Regions from separate parts of the Homo sapiens genome. Here region 2 is linked to region 1. The links come from fine-mapping of genetic effects on gene expression. A gene starts in region 1. The other region holds a variant in brackets. All regions are shown on one strand. Distances are from middle to middle. Region 1 holds the start of ATP8B3 (ATPase phospholipid transporting 8B3). Region 2 holds the start of LOC101928543 (a long non-coding RNA gene).

The links. PIP is the estimated chance that this variant, and not a neighbour inherited with it, causes the effect.
Region 2: its variant is fine-mapped to the expression of ATP8B3 in unexposed skin (GTEx, PIP above 0.99).

Annotation. Positions count from the first base shown.
Region 1 is chr19:1,808,959-1,817,275 of GRCh38, reverse strand. It overlaps ATP8B3 (ATPase phospholipid transporting 8B3), which reads left to right and starts at 5,000. Exons shown (of 29, transcript NM_138813.4): 1 at 5,000-5,090; 2 at 5,392-5,787; 3 at 6,593-6,654; 4 at 7,542-7,633. The coding sequence starts at 5,540. REXO1 (RNA exonuclease 1 homolog) reads left to right here. Exons shown (of 16, transcript NM_020695.4): 12 at 1-57; 13 at 463-578; 14 at 707-845; 15 at 931-1,051; 16 at 1,122-2,028. The coding sequence ends at 1,210. MIR1909 (microRNA 1909) reads left to right here and starts at 1,038; the gene lies at 1,038-1,117. RefSeq lists enhancers at 4,207-4,366, 4,747-5,492 and a silencer at 4,917-5,286.
Region 2 is chr19:1,768,332-1,776,648 of GRCh38, reverse strand. ONECUT3 (one cut homeobox 3) reads right to left here. Exons shown (of 2, transcript NM_001080488.2): 2 at 1-1,496. The coding sequence ends at 1,204. It overlaps LOC101928543 (a long non-coding RNA gene), which reads left to right and starts at 2,299. Exons shown (of 5, transcript XR_007067085.1): 1 at 2,299-2,391; 2 at 2,482-2,613; 3 at 2,922-3,015; 4 at 3,109-3,206; 5 at 6,819-6,882. The variant A/G (reference allele first, on the strand shown) is at 3,211.

The DNA of each region.
Region 1 (8,317 bases):
GAGAAAGAGCTCTCAGGAGACACCCACCCGGGGATCTACGCCCTGGACTGCGAGATGGTGAGGCTGTTCTCTGCCCAGCGTCGGGTTCAGGATTGGGGAGGACCTGGCCTGGTGCGGCCGCCCCATCTGGCCCCATCTGGGCCTGGCTCACCGGCCAGCGCTCAGGGTTTCTCTCGCAGCACCGGTGCCTGTGGCTCCTGCCCTGGACCAACACCCCATACTTCCCAGCAGAGCCAAGCACACCGGGCACTGGGCCCCGGCTCTGCCTCTGAATGGGAGGCAGGAGGGCTTTGCGAAAGGGGGTTACTGAGGTCACACCCCACTCGGCCTCTCCTAGAAGTCCCACAGAGTCTCTGGTCACTGCCTCTGCCTGGAGGGGCTCTGGAGACTCAAAGGGGCAGGGAAGGGGAGGGAGGGAGGCCGGTGCCTGGGACACATCTGAGGTGCATCCCTTGCCCGCAGTCCTACACCACATATGGCCTGGAGCTGACGCGCGTCACGGTGGTCGACACGGACGTGCACGTGGTTTATGACACCTTCGTGAAGCCTGACAACGAGATCGTGGACTACAACACCAGGTGTGGCCAGTGCCCTCCACGAGCTGGGAGCCCTCCCAGCCGCCTCTCCCCAGGGACCCACCCTCCCCCGCCCCACCAGCCAGTGCTTCCAGGCTGAGCCCTGGTGCCCCTCCTGCCCGTTCCCCCAGGTTTTCGGGGGTGACGGAGGCTGACCTTGCCGACACAAGTGTCACGCTGCGTGACGTCCAGGCCGTTCTGCTGAGCATGTTCAGCGCTGACACCATCCTCATCGGACACAGCCTGGAGAGCGACCTCCTGGCCCTGAAGGTGCCCTGCCGGCCCGGGTCCCGCGCGGTTCTCCAGCAGGACCTGCGCAGGCCCCACGTGCGCTGATCTCTGCCGCTGCCCACAGGTCATCCACAGCACCGTGGTGGACACGTCTGTGCTCTTCCCCCACCGCCTGGGCCTCCCCTACAAGCGGTCCCTGCGGAACCTCATGGCCGACTACCTCAGACAGATCATCCAGGACAATGGTGAGTGCCGGTGCCTGCCCTGGGGCCGTCCCTGCGCAGGGGCCGGGTGCTCACCGCATCTGCCCCGCAGTGGATGGGCACAGCTCCAGCGAGGACGCCGGCGCCTGCATGCACCTGGTGATCTGGAAGGTTCGAGAAGACGCCAAGACCAAGCGATGACGCCTGCCCGCCTCCCACCCGCCTCTCCTGCCGTCCCGCTGGTCCTTAGCCCCATGCCTCTTCCAAAACAGTGCAATAAATCTCCGGTAACCCGTCCACCTGGCCGAGGCAGCCCAGAGCAGCGGGATGAGCTGGCGGCCAGAGAACGCCCAGCCCAGCCCACCCCCGCTCACGTCCTGCCGCACCCCTCCGCCGGTCCCCACCCTCTGCCCCCCAGCCCTCTGGCGTCTCTAGAAACTGCTGCTGATGGAGACCAGGACAGAGCCCGCCCCCACCCGGCCCGCAGCCCCTCCTGCCCCTCCTGCCAGGCCCTCCCTCCCGGGTGGTGGCCGGCACCTCTGCTCCTCACGTGGGTCGCGGGGCGGGCTTGTCCCAGGTTTGTTTGAGACAGTCTTTTTTTATTTTGTATTGTTATTTTTATTATTTTTAATTTAAACCTGATGACTTGCACAGCATCTTTCCCACCGGGAAGAGCGGGCCTGCTGCCTTCCCTCCTGCGGGGTGGGGGTGGGACAGACCCCAGTGGGGGCCAGGGCCACACTCAGCGCAGTGTGGGCTGGACCCGCCTCTGTGCTCCAGGGGCTGGCCGGTCTTCGGGGGCGCCGGCTTCCACCACTCGCCGCCCCACCCCTGCACTCCGTGACCTCTGAGAACCCAGCTGGCCCCTCGTTAGCCCCAGGGTCTGCCGTCTAGAGGGAGCCCACCGGCCTCCGGACACTGTCTTCCCGCTAGAGCCCCGTCCTCCTCTGCGGGGCTCTCCGGACCCCCTTCCCCCTCACCTCCAGGCAGGGACAGAATAAATGTTTGTATGGATTTTAGATTTTGTGGTGGTCTTGGTCTTGGTGCCTGGTGAGGCCTCTGCATGTGCCCCGGGGAGGCCACTGTCCCTGCAGCCGGGACTGATTCTCTTCCCATCAACGCAGAGAAAACAGAGCAGTGAAACTTTCCCTCACAAAAGCTGGCCCAGGGCTGGCTCCCCCAGGGCTGGGCCACACCTGCTGTGGGGTCCCAGTTCCAGCCCCAGATCATGGGCCACCATCCTGCAGCTTCTAGTGCCTCTCGGACAGTGGGTGGTGTCCCCAGCCCTGTGTGGAGCTGGGCCCTGTGCACAGAGCTGGCTTCCCTCTCTGCCCTGCCCAGAGATAGGGACTGCACACAGATGGTGAGAGGGGGTTAAAGAGACTGGGAGCTGCTGTGTGTTGCCCGTCAAAGGATGGAGTGCAGACACGGAAAGCTGCTCCGGCCCTTGCCAGGAAACGCCACACATTGTGTAGTGCACGCACGTCTCGGGCAACTGTGGTTGCATCGGGACCCCATTTGGAAATGGGAGGCCCAGGGGTGTTTAGGCCCCACTTTTTATTGACCTCAAGTAGAAAAAGTGATGAGCCTTGCGGGACAGGACCCAGCAGCTGGGGGCAGGTTGCCTGGAGTGGGTTTCCTGCCACCCTGGTCTTGGGCTTCTGCTGAAGGGCAAGGCCAAGGGCACAGGTCCCGGGATGAGGACGTGGGGGCCCTCCCCAGAGGACTCCATCCCAAGGCTCCCTTCCCGGTTCTGGGCTCTGCATCTCTCCAGGGCCCTCCTGGGGGACCGTGGTTAGGCCAGGCCCTTCCACCCTCGAGGGCTGTTCTTGTGACTAGTGACTCTCCCACCTCTTCTGTAAAGGAGTTGTTTTCTTTTTCTTCTTTATTTTTGAGACACAGTCTCGCTTTGTCACCCAGTCTCAGCTGGCTGCAACCTCTGTCTGCCGAGTAGCTGGGATTATGGCTGTGCCATCACACCTGGCTAATTTCGTATTTTTAGTAGAGATGGGGTTTCACCACGTTGGCCAAGCTGGTCTCGAACTCCTGACCTCAAGTGATCCACCTGCCTCGGCCTCCCAAAGCGTTGGGATTACAGGCATGAGCCACTGTGCCCGGCTCTGTGTTCTAAATAAATGGCGCAGGCGTGTATGCGCTCTGTTTCTGTGCATTCCCATGTGATGTCTGCCTCCCCCTTCCCAGAACGCACCTGGTGCCTCAGGACATAGCCCACGGGGGGTCCCAAGGCTGGCCAGCCCTGGCTTCAGCCCCCAGGGACTCCCTTCAGCTTGTGAAGCCACCTGTTGCCACTGGAGGCTTCAGGGCCTTTGCACAAGTGCCCTGGGCAAGCTCCTGCCCCCAGATAGTGCCCCCTGCGAAGGCTGGGGTGGGGGAATCTGGTCCTCACAGCTGCACCCAACCAGGTCTCTTCTAAAGTTTATTAGAACAGTGTGTTCAAACTCCCAGCCCCGGCTTTTTTTCGTAACCACTGAGCAAGCAAGCAAGCACAGGGGAAGTGTTGAAGGAATGAAAGGAGAGAAGTCAAACACAGTGGCCTGCCTGCCTGCTTGTGGTCCCAGCTACTCTGGAGGCTGAGGCAGGAGGATCGCTTGAGCCCAGGAGGTGGAGGCTGCAGTGAGCTCTGATCGCACCACTGCACTCCAGCCCGGGTGACACAGTGAGACTCTGTCTCCAAAAAAAGAGAGGTTCCCTGGCAGCCTCCAGGGCCAAGCAGGCTTCCAATTTGGGCTTCCAAAGAAAGAGGGTTTGTGATCACCGAGAGCCCTCAGGTGGTTGCCGCTTTGATGGGGGAGGTGGCTTCCCTATCCCCCTCCACCCATGTTTGCCTCTCCCTTTGGGCCCTCACCCCAGGTAGCCTCACTCTTGGGGGCATTTCATCTTCAGCAGCCCCTCCGCACACACTTTCTGACCCTGGCTCCAGGCCCTATCGCTGGCCTGGACCCGCCCTAGCCTCGTCGCTGAACTCACCCCTGCCACTTCTTCAGTAAGGATCCCTGAGCCCCTGCCACCTGCTGGAAAGAACCCTGCGGGCTTCCTCTTGGCCTTAGGGTGGTCTCAATGGCTATAACCGCCTCTCCCCAGCCTGGTGCTCAGCCCTGCATCTGCGCCTAGGAGGCGCTCGTTGAACGTGTATGGGATGAATGAACGAACCCAGGACACGGATCAGACATGACTTACATAACCGCCGTTACCTGTGGTCCTTCCTCCTGCACTCTGCCACGCTGGCCGCACCAGCCTCAGCCCCGTCAGGTCTGCAAGGCCCATTCCGACCTGACCCAGGCCCACCTTTCCAAGAACCCTTCCAACCCCGCCCTGCGGTGCAGGTTCTTTCTGCTCCCTGACCAAGCCCGGCCCGGCCCTGCCCTGACACCCTCTTCCCTTTCAGGCTCCGCCCCTGCACTGGCACTGCTCCCTAAGGCCCTCCCAAGGCCCTGCCTTCTGTCCTGGACCCACCCTGAGCGCCCTCCTACCCTGACCCTGCTCTGCGCGGCCCCGCCTTCCTCCTTTGTAACGGCTCCGGATCCCAGCCCCGCCCCTACCATAACACTGCTCCGCAAGGCCATGCTCAACCCCGCTTCCCGCTCTGGCCAAGCCCCTGAGTCCTGGCCCCGCCCCTACTCTGACTTTGCTCAGCGAGACCCCGCTCGTCCTCGCCTTCCTTCTAGTCCCTTCCCCAAAGTCCCGGCCCCTCCCCAGACCCAGGCACTGCTCCCGAGCGTCTTCTATCCCGGCCTGTTCTGCGAGGCTCTGCGAGGCCCCGCCCTTCGGCCGTGACCGCGTCCCTGAGGCCTGGCCCCCATCCTGCTCGGCCGTGCTCCGCTCGGCCCCACCCTCGAGGCCCCGCCCCTTCTTCGCCTTGGCCCCACCCACCCCCTCCAGGCCCCGCCCCCGGCCCCCTTCCGGGGTCCGAACTGGCTCCACCTTCGCCTTGGCCGGGCCCCGAGGCCCCGCCCCGAGATCCCGCCCCCCGTTTCAGGACCGTTGGCACCGGGCTAACGGTTCCACCACGTCCGCCGCCCTGGACGCCCGCGGCCTGCCCCCCCCTGCCTCTCCTGCGCCGGTGAGCGGCGGGTGCTCCCACTGCTGTGCGTCCCCGGGAGCCCGCGCACCCTCTCTGGGCTCCACCCAGGCTGAGAGCTGGGGTCGTGGCGGCGGGGGTGGAGAGCGCGCCCCTAGAGGTTCGCGCGGTCGGGGCCCCGGGGCGGGTGCAGACAGCCCTGGACTCTGGAGCCCTGTCCAGGGCGGTCCTGTGCCCCTGCGGCTGCGGGAAGACGGGGTGGGGGGCTTCCGAGTAATGGGGCATCCCAGTTAGTGAGGGGGCAGGAAGCCAGCGCTGTGTCCGTGTCTCTTTCTGCCCCCAGATACACTTCGAGTGGATTCTGGCCATTTGAGCATTCTCTCCAACTCTCCAATCCCCAGTCTGCCCCCACGGGGGTCTCCCCCACCTCTCCCCCGTCCCACAGCCTAAACCCCTCTTCGCCCTGAACCTCCCTTTTCCTCATGCGGTGAATGGGCACTGGCCCCGCTCAGACTCCCAGGAGCACCAGAGCTGGCCCTGAGCCAAGCCCTGCCCCACCAGGACCTGGGGACACGGGTGACTCAGACGTGACTCAGGAAGGCTCAGGTCCTGCTGGCATCCGCGGAGGTGAGACGGTGATCAGAGCTGGGATGGGAGACTCCCCAGGCAGAGGGGCACCTGAGAGGAGGCACAAGGCCCAGCCTGGCCGGGCTAGGAAGTATGAATGGAGACCAGAAGGGTGAGGACGGGTGCATCGGGTGGCCGGAACACAGGGGCAGGGGCTTGGCGGGGAGGGCACTGCTAGAGAGCTGGCAGGTGGGGGGCCAGTTGCTGGCGTCTAGGGGTGGTTTGCCCATCCTCATAGGGGGCCAAACCAGGGCCCCCGGTGCAGGGCTAGAGCCAGACCCACATTCCTGAACCTGCTAGTGGAGAAGATTCCAGGATCTTCTGACGATGTCCGTCTGCCTCCATCGCCCCCATCAGAGTTTGCTGCCCAGCCTGGGGGGGTGAGGAGGGGAGTGGCCATGCCTGACCCTCATGCTGTGTTTTGAGATATAACATATAGCCCGGGGGTCCCATTCAGTCAGTGAACAGATGACTGAGCCCCTAAGCTGGTGCCACATGGGGAGAGGGGCAGGAGGCCGTCAGTGAAACCAGGAGGAGGTGAGAGTGGTCCTTTCAGGAAAAGCGAGGTGTGGGGAGCAGTGGCCGGAGGCTGGCATGGCCAGAGGCTGGCATGGCTGGCGGTAGAGTCCTTCTAGGCTGTACTGGCGGGAGGCGACCAGGGTGGCTGGCGGGGGACACTGGCAGATGGGCTGTTGCAGGTTTGAGGATCATCTTGGGGTCCCCTAGGTCTCAGGATGTCCAAGGCAAGACACACAGCCTATGGCTGGACATTCAGAGCCTGGCGGGGAGGCTGCAGATGAGTGTGGGAGGTAGCATTTGAGAGGGTCGGCCCCTAGGCTGTGAGCTCCTTGAAGACCGAGTGGTGCCCAGCAAGGGCTGGGGTCACTGCTGTGACCCGGGGCCCTTCTCTCCCACAGCCCCACCAGCATGGGCAGCCTCGGCCAGAGAGAAGATCTCCAAGATGAGGACAGGAACTCAGGTGCTGATCCTGGGCAGAGGGGGCGGTGCAGGTGGGAGGGATTATGAAGTTCAGGGCTGGCCAGGCGTGGTGGCTCTCCCCTGTAATCCCGGCACTTTGGGAGGCTGAGGCGGGTGGATCACTTGAGGTCAGGGGTTCGAGAGCCTGGGCAACATGGAGAAACCCCGTTTCTACTAAAAGTACGAAGATTAGCTGGGCGTGGTGGCGTATGCCTGTAATTCTAGCTACTTGGGAGGCTGAGACAGGAGAATCACTTGAACCCAGGAGACCCAGGAGGTGGAGGTTGCAGTGAGCTGCGATTGTGCTACTGCACTCCAGCCTGGGTGACAGAGCGAGACTCCATCTCAAAAAAAAGAAAAAAGTGCAGGGCTGAGGCTGAGACGGGCTGGGGCCCCCAGACCTGCACGTCAGGCCTTGCCTAGGATTCTCATTTGGTTTCTAGTAGTCTCCAACCCTAGTACTGACTGGGTTTGGGGGATTTGGCTCAGGATTTGGGGGCTGCATGCCCAGAAAGATCTGGGCCGCCAGCTGGATGTATGGCCTTGGACACCCAAGAGCCCATCACCAAGCCTCAGTTTACCCCCCTCTGTAAAATGTACAGGCCTGAACGGTCTCCCAGGGCCTGTTCTCTGCGTCTCAGGACAGGCCCCTGGCTGGGGGTGTGGGTGGCCACTCTCGGAATCCACTTGTGCCGGCGCCAACTATGGGCAGGGTCTGGTAGGTCCCCAGGTGGTGCCTGCTGCCCGACTGTCTGTTTACGGGCTCTGACATCTCGGGCCTCCCCAGTGCCTGGGTCCCACGGGCCCCATGAGCCCTCCTCCGGGCGGTCATTAGGGGTGTTTGTCCTGGGCCTCGAGCTCCAGCGACGCCCGGCTCTCTCGCTGCAGCATTCACCTGGAAGGTCCAGGCCAACAACCGTGCCTACAACGGGCAGTTCAAGGAGAAGGTGATCCTGTGCTGGCAAAGGAAGAAATACAAGGTGGGCGGCCCCTCCCGCGCCTCCCTGCTCCAGAGGAGCTGCCGTGGTACCCTCGGGGAATCTATTTTTTGCTCCTCCTGAGTCCTGCCTCTGCTTGTATTTGCTCGATAGTTTTCTTTTTTTGGTTTTCGTTTTCTTTTTCTTTCTTTCTTTTTTTTTTTTGAGACAGAGTCTCCCTCTGTTGCCCAGGCTGGAGTGCAGTGGCGACATCTCGGCTCACTGCAACCTCCACCTCCGGGGTTCAAGCAATTCTCCTGCCTCAGCCTCCCAAGTAGCTGGGATTACAGGCATGCACCACCACGCCTGACTAATTTTTGTATTTTTAGTAGAGACAGTTTCACCATGTTGGCCAGGCTGGTCTCGAACTCCTGATCTCAGGTGATCCACCCACCTCGGCCTCCCAAAGTGCTGGGATTACAGGCGTAAGCCACTGCGCCCAGCCTCTTTTTTCTTTTTTCTGTTTTGTTTTAAGATGGAGTCTCGCTCTGTCGCCCAGGCTGGAATGCAGTGGCGAGATCTCGGCTCACTGCAACCTCTGCCTCCCGGGTTCTAGTGATTCTCCTGCCTGAGACTCCCAAGTAGCTGGGATTACAGGCACCCACAACCACGCCCGGCTAATTTTTTGCATCTTTAGTAGAGATGGGGTTTTGTCATGTTGGCCAGGCTGGTCTGGAACTCCTGACC
Region 2 (8,317 bases), 41 kb after region 1:
AGCGGGGGAGAGCGCGGGGTGGGAGGGGGGCGCTCATCTTCATTTCCGACCCTTCCCATTTGTAAATATTTTTGGCAAAAAATGGAGCAAGCGGAATCCACCTTCCTCGGCGTCTTCTCTCTTTGGCGAGAGTGGAAACCAACACCACGTTCAACCCCGCTGCCCCCCTGCAAGCCCAGTTCAGACCCTGACGCGGGCGGAAAGGGGGGCGGTGGATTCCAGAAGGTTCCACGCAGGAAGCGTCTCCACGGGCCCGTGCAGAGGGGCTCCTCCGGGCGGCCCCAGCGGCGCCTTCTCCGGCCGGGTCCCCTTCTCCTGGGAGCCTGGGCGTGGTCTCCCGTGTCCGGAGCTGCGTCCTTCCTTGCGCTCCACGAAGGTGCCTAAAGGTAAAGTGAACTCAACAGACGGGGCGGGGCGGGGGCGTCTGGAATTTACCCGCACGTGGGAGCCCCCCGTCCCCTGCGGCCTGGGATGGGGTGGGAAGGGTGCTCGCCCGTAGGTGCTGGGCGCCCGCCGCAGGCCCCTCCCCAGACTTTAAGGCAGGCGATTCTTGGCACGAGGAATCCTGGCCGCAGAGAGGGGCAGCTCAGTTCTCGGCCGCAGGGGCCGTCCTGCCAGCGGGTGGGGTTGGTTTTGGAGAGGGTGGGGGACCGTAAGGATCCGGCTTGATGTGGGTTTTTGGCGACTTTGGAAAGGGCTGAGGTCCCTGGGGAGGGGGCCGGGGCGGGTGGGGAGGAAGGAAGTTTTCTACTACCTCCCTCGGTGGGGCAGGGGATCTGACGGAGGAGGGGTTATTCTTTAAAATTCCATTTTTAAATACCCGGTTTATATTTCTAGTATGTGCTTCTTGACCCGCTTTAGGGGACAACACAGTGAGCCCTGGTTTTTCTCGAGGCCCTCTGGGCGTCCTGAATGGAGAGGGGGCTGGGAAACCCCTTTCTGTCACTCCCTCCCCTCCGGGGGGGGGTGGAGGGCTTCCTTTGGCCTGGAGGGAGTGGGCATGGAGGGAGGAAGGGGGGCCCTTTTTGTGCACTTGGGCTGGGGGGTGTGCTGCTTCCCCCTCCCCGGGTGTGGGGGGCCCGGATAGCACCCCCTCCAGGTGCCCCCTGGGGGCGGGTCTCCGGGCCGGCAGGATGTGGGGAGGTGACGTGGGGGCACAGCGCCCAGGCCGTGGAGGCAGGGAGGGCGCGGGGCCGGGGCGCCTCAGGCCTTGGAGAAAGTGGCCGTGGCGCCGGCGGGGCCCCCGGGGGCCGTGCTGGGCTCCTCAGCCCAGCGGTTCATGCAGCGGCGCCGCGCGTTCATGAAGAAGTTGCTGACGGTGTTGAGCTCCAAGCCGAGCTGCTGCGAGATGGTGACCTGCATCTCCTTGGACGGCCGCTTGTTCTCCTTGAAGATGGCGATCAGCGTGCGTCGCTGCAGGTCGGTGAACACCAGGCGCTGCTTCTTGGGCTGCAGGGCGCGCTCCTTCTGCTGCTCCTGTTCCTTGCGCTTGCAGGCTGCGGGCGAGCGGCGGGCGGGCGGGCGAGCGGGACACAGCGCCACCGTGTGGCCGGCCGGGGAGAGGCAGGAGGCGCACGCCGCCCGGAGGATGAGGAGGAGGGGAGAAGGGACACGTTGGGGAAAGGCGAATGCACATAAGGTCCCAGGGAGAGCCCAGAAGCAACAAGAATGCAGGGAGAGGCGGAGGGGGAGACAGCGGGGAACACAGGGACGCACAGAGACAGAGACAGGGAAACAGCAAGGTCAACAGGGAGACAACAGGAAAGTCCAGGATGCAGCCAGAGGGCGGTGGAGACAGAATGGAAGGCGAGGACAGGCAGGGAAAGCAGATGCGGTGGGGGTGGGGGGAGGACAAAGAAGGGGACACAGTGTGAGTGCCCCTCTGCAGGCATGGCTACCACCCCCTCCAGCCCCCTTCTCCATGGAGCCCACTCAGGCACCCCCCAAGCCTCATACCCCCCAAACCCCGTCCTACCCTCAAACGCTCCCTACCTAAAGGACCACAGAAATTGATATTGGTAACTTTCTCCTCTCCTTTCTGCAGCCCCAACCTGGGGGTGTTGGGGAAATGACATGGAAACTGCACATGAGAGTTTTTGGCTCAGTGTAGACTTGGGTGAAATAACTGGTTAATTACTAGGTCCTGGGGTGCATCACAAAACCCAGCAGCCTTCCCCAGAAATGGTGGGCTAACCAGGGCCTTTCCTTTCTTTCTTTTCTTTTTTTTTTTTGCGGAGGGGAAGTCTTGCTATGTTGCCCAGGCTGGTCTCGAACGCCTGGCCTCAAGTGATCCTCTGGCCTCAGCCTCCCAAAGCACTGGGATTACAGGTGTGTGCCATGGCAACTGGCTGTGACAACCAAGCTCTACGAATGAGCAGCAGCGACACTCCTGTAAGGCCTGATACCCTTAGGGACCCTGTGAGTCCACAGCCCAATTCCGACATCTGAATCCCTGCCTCCTGCTCCTGCCCCTATCCACAGGCTGAGACCACCCAGACTTGGCCTCCCTCGAGCACCCAGTGGACCCTCTGGAGCGCAGAACATCTAAGAAAGAAGACTTTGGAGGAGGAGGGGAGAGTGCAGGGACCACCTCTTCCTCTCCCAGATGAGCAGGTCACCCTTCCTCTTGGTCAGCCCGCACAGATCACGGAGAGGGCTGAAGGAGGCTGCCCCATGGCCTGCAGACCAGACACTTGCAAAGGGGAGAAAAGCAAAGGCTCGGGGTGATGGGGCAGGGCTGAAGCCGAGTCCTGCTCTTCCTGCTCCAGCAGCGAAGTGAACCCCTCCCCTCAATGCAGTGGGTGTCAGTGGGTACAAAACACAGGCTTCCCCCACTAGGAGCTGGGCCACAAGTCAGATGGGCTCATTTGTGGCATCAGCTTGAAACTCCATCAGAATCTCAATTTCTCTCCTGCATCCAGACTGGGACTGTGGTGCTGAAGAGGCTGTCCTGCCCTTGTCTCCATCCCGGAGTTCCAGCTACTCTGTGACCCCCAGAAGTGGCCGGTGGTGCAGGTAGTACTAGTGGGTCTCTGCTCCCAGTCTCTTCTCTGTGCCAGCCGTCGTGGCCTACTGGAATGGCACAGAGAGCTTTTCTTTTCGTTGCAGAACAGCCTGGAACATGACATGCTAGATCAATGTCCATACACGTCCACAGAAATAAATGAATGTTCCTTCTGCCATGACTCATGTCTCGGGGACAACAGGTTC[A/G]CCCGTCTAGGGTGTGAGCTGACGCACACTTCACTCCCTCTGACCTGGAATGTGTGGGGCTTCTAACTGCGGTTTCAGGTTTTATGATTAAATGCAAGTGATGCCTGTGGGTTACTGCACATTTTAGAAAAGCGTCTAACATGAAAAAGAGAGGGAGAGAGAGAGAGGGAGGGAGGCAGGAGGGGGGAGAACAATGGAGAAAAATGGTTTGGTGGGGGAGGAATAAACTCAGAAGGAACCGACAAGGCAGGCAAAGCTATAATTAATATTCCCAGAGGAGTAAGAGAAAAATATCGTATCCATGAAACAAGTACAGGATGCTGTTAAGTAAAAGGGACCATTAGAGAGTGAGGAAATGCTCTTAAAATGTGAATATATAACAGCCAGAGTAAAATAATTCCATGTAAGGACTGGAAGATAAAGTTAAGCAGATATTGGCCGGGCGCGGTGGCTCACGCCTGTAATCCCAGCACTTTGGGAGGCCGAGGCGGGCGGATCACGAGGTCAGGAGATCAAGACCATCCTGGCTAACACGGTGAAACCCTGTCTCTACTAAAAAAAAAAAAAAAAAAAAAAAATTAGCTGGACGTGGTGGTGCATGCCTGTAATCCCAGCTACTCGGGAGGCTGAGGCAGGAGAATTGCTTGAATCTGGGAGGCAGAAGTTGTGGTGAGCCAAGATCGTGCCATTGCATTTCAGCCTGGGCAACAAGAGTGAAACTCCATCTCAAAAAAAAAAAAAAAAAAAAAAAAGAGTAAAGCAGATATCCCAGAAAATGGAACACAAGCAGCTGCAAAGATGGGAAATGAAAGAGAATAAAAAGTTAGAGGATGAATTAAGATGAAGCAGGGTTGTCACCTGATCAAGAGACAGTTCAAAAATAGAGGAAGAGATGATCAAATAATGAAAAAAAATCTAGCGTTGAAAGATGAGTTTCCAGTTTAAATGTGGTCAGGTGCAGTGGCTCATGCCTGTAATCTCAGCATTTTGGGAGGCTGAGGCAGGAGGAACACTTGAGGCTGGGGGTTCAAGGCTACAGTGAGCATGATCTCACCACTGCACTCCAGCCTGGGTGACAGAGTAAGACTCTCTTTTAAAATAAATAATTTTTAAATATAAATAGGCCCACTGGGCATGGTGGCTCATTCTTGTAATCCCAGCACTTTGGGAGGCCAAGGTAGGTGGATCGCTTGAGGTCAGGAGTTCGAGACCAGCCTGGTCAACATGATGAAACTCTGTCTCCACAAAAAATACAAAAAAAATTAGCTGAGTGTGGTGGCAGGTGCTTGGAATCCCAGCTACTGGGGAGGCTGAGGCAGGAGAGTCGCTTGAACCCAGTAAGCAGAGGTGTGAGCTGAGATCACACCACTCACTCCAGCCTGGGCAACAGAGCGAGACTCCGTCTCAAAAATAAATAAATAAATAAATAAATAAATAAATAAATAAATAATAACTAAATAGGCTGGATGAAGTGGCTCATGCCTCTAATCCCAGCACTTTGGGAGGCTGAGGTGGGAGGATCACTTGAGCCCAAGAGGTTGAGAGCAGCTTGGAGAATATAGTGAGACCCCATTGCTACAAAAAATTTAAAATTAGCCAGGCATGGTGACTCACACCTGTGGTCCCAGTTATTCAGGATGCTGAGGTAGGAGGATCATTTGAGCCCAGAAGGTCAAGGCTGCAGTGAGTTATGATCATGATACTGCACTCCAGCCTGGATGACAGAGCGAGACCCCAGCTCTAAAAAAATGGGGGTGGGACATCAAGTCCTCAGCTCATTGAATGAAAAAGACACTCAAGCCTCGTTGTTGTGAAATTTCAGAGCACCAAGAATAAAGAGAAAATCCTAAAAAGCGCCTAGAGGAAAGCCAGATGTCATGCAAAGGATCAAGAATCCAAGCAGCTTTGGGTGTGCAAAAACTAGCAGACAACAGAGCAAGGCTTTCAAAGTTCCAAGGAAAAGTTATTTTCAGCTAGAATTGCTAAATAACAAAAGACCAAACATGAAGGTGCAATAAAGATATAATCGGATGTTCAAGGACTCCAAAACTTAACTTCCCACATACCCTTTCTCAGAAAGCTACTGGAGGATGTGTTCCATTCAAACGAGGAGGTAAATAAAAAAAGGATGGTGTGGGATTCAGAAAATGTGATCCAACCTAGCTGAAAGAGAAAAGGGGTCCTCCAAATCAGGATGAGGGGGACCCTGGAAGACAGCTAGACAAAAGGACCCAGGGTATGGAGGGCAGCCCCACCCAGATCAGAGATGACCTAATATGTGTGGAAAGTCCTATTGAGTTGGTTTTAAATTTTGTTGGGGAGCGTGGGAAGAATTTTTGTTTGGCAGCTATCAACTCCTGGAAAACCAAAGAGTTGTACAGGAAAGGAAATGCAGTCCTAGTACTCTACATGGCTCAGCTGTGGACAATGTTTTCCAAAAGCGTAATAATGTTAATTACTAAATGTTAATTTAGGCAACAGACTGTATTTGTAATTATATTGAGAGACTGACAGAGAGGGAGAGTATGGGTATGAATCTGGAAAGATGGCAAAGGAAATCCTGAAGGGTGAACAGTGTACCAGGGAGCCTTTTATGTGTGAAAGGAGAGACAAGAACCTATGTTTATATTTTATCTGCATAAAGAAACATGGAAGGAAATGCAAAAAACTGAATTGACCTCTCACCTCTTTGGCACTCGGCCACCCTATGAGGATTACAGGAGAGGACCCAGTCCTCCATTCTTTCAAAGGGAAAGCTGAGTCAAAACTCAACCGGGGCCTTGAAATTCCAAGGGAGGCCCTTCTCGCTCACCTGTTGTAATGTTTAATTCATTCACTCACTCATTTATTCATTCACTTAGCAATTTACTCACAAATTTATCCTACATTTACAGTAGGGACAGAAATACAAATGCTCCTCAGAAAGCTCACAAGAGCTTTGTGTCAAGAGCTTTATATGTATCTGGTCACTCAATTCTTAACAATAATTCTTGTTTTGTTTTGAGACAGGGTCTTGCTGTGTCGCCCAGGCTGGAGTGCAGTGGTGCAATCATGACTCACTGCATCCTTGAACTCCTGGGCTCAAGCAATCCTTCCACCTCAGCCTCCCAAGTAGGTGGGACCACGGGTGCACATCACCACATCTGGCTAATTAAAAAACAAAAAACAAAAAACCCCCACAAACATATATATATGTTTTTTGTTTGTTTGTAGAAATGTGGTCTCACTATGTTGTCCAGGCTGGTCTCTAACTCCTGGGTTCAAGCAATCCTCTAGCTTCAGCTTCCCAAAGTGCTGGGGTTACAGGCATGAATCACAGTACCCAGCCTCAATCCTTACAATAATTCTACAAGGCAGGGGGTTTTCTCCTTATTTACTCAGAGAATGTGAGCCACCCCTCAGGCTTGCCCAGCCAGTCCCAATAGGGCAGCCCAGAAAACAGAGTCCACTGGCCTAGATGGGGGAGGGAGGTAGGATGCATATCGTCCCTTTCCCACCCCACCTCCCAGGCTCCAATCTGGTGCCTAATGGGGACCCCAGAGGCAGAGGCTGGGGGAGGGGCCGGGCCAGGCAGAGTCTGAAAAAACTTCCCGTTTTGTCGATTGCAGCAAAAAGAGGCTCTGCTGCCCCCCTTCCCGGCGTTCAATCTAATTACAGCTCCTCACAGCCCAGATCGATCCAGTCGGAGCTGTTTACCGCGAGCAGCTTTGTCATTGCTCCCATCCCCCACAGCCGCTGACAGAGGTGTGAGTTGGAGTAGGGGGGCCGCCTGGATGCCCCCTCTGTGCATCCCCTACCCATCACCACCGCCACCTGACCCCCGCCAGCACCCCACCCAACATCAGGTTCACCCCCACACCAATCCTAAAGGCCACCCCTGTGCCAACCCAGAGGCCATGGTGGTTATGGACCCCTTGTGCAGAAGTGAAAACTGAGACTTGGAGAGAAGGACTGATGGGGTTCAGAGTGGGGACGGGGGTGAAGCCCTGGACTTGGCCCTGGTACCAACCACCAGCCTCATGCTGCCAGGGCCCACCATTGCCACCTCTGCCACGCGACCTCCACCAGCCTCCAATGAGGTCTCCACCTCCGTCCTCTCCTCCACCATCACTCCTGCACCACCAATGTCAGTGCTATCCCATCACACCCTCCATATCACCTCCAACTCCAGCACCTCCTCCTCCTCCACCACCTCCAGCACCTCCACCTCCTCCTTCATCACCTCTTCCTTCACCACCTCCACCTCCATCACCTCCACCTCCAGCACCTCTTCCTTCACCACCTCCACCGCCACGACCTCCACCTCCATCTCCATCACCTCCACCTCCAGCATCTCCTCCTCCATCACCTCCACCTCCACTTCCACCACCTCCACCTCCAGCAACTCCACCACCTCCACCGTCACCTCCACCTCCACTTCCACCTCCACCACCTCCACCATCACCTCCACCTCCACTTCCACCTCCATTACCTCCACCTCCAGCACCTCTACCTCTACCTCCTCCACCTTCACCTCCACCACCTCCACCTCCACCACCTCCACCTCCACCACCTCCACCTCTACCTCCGCCACCTCCTCCATCGTCTCCACCTTCCACCCCCATCACCACCTCCATCACCTCCACCTTCCACCTCCCCACACCTCCTCCATGACCTTTCTTTTACTCACCCCCTTCCTCTGTTTTCTTCACCTCCCCCTGATTTCCTTCATTATCCTCATCAACACTGCTGAACCCCATCCTGGGATTCTCCTAGTATGTGGCCAGCACTGCATACTCAGCCCCTGGTTCCATCACCAGCAGCTCCCGACCTGTAGTCGGGGGGATAGAGAGTGGCCCCCAACACAGACCTTGGCCACCAAGCTGGCGGAGGAGTGGGGCGGGGCCAGGCTGTCAAGCTTGCTCTGGGACCCCAGGCGAGTCCCATTCCCTTGGAGGCCTCAGTCCCTTCCTTTGTAAAGACAGTGCGCCCCCTTCAGGCATGTCCCGGTGCAGGCCAGTCCTTCCTGGGCTCCTGAGCTCTTCCAGCCGCTTCCCTCTCCCCATCCACCACCAGCCGCCTCTCTGTCTGGCCTCCCCCGCTGGCCTCACTCACTCAGCTCCTTTGC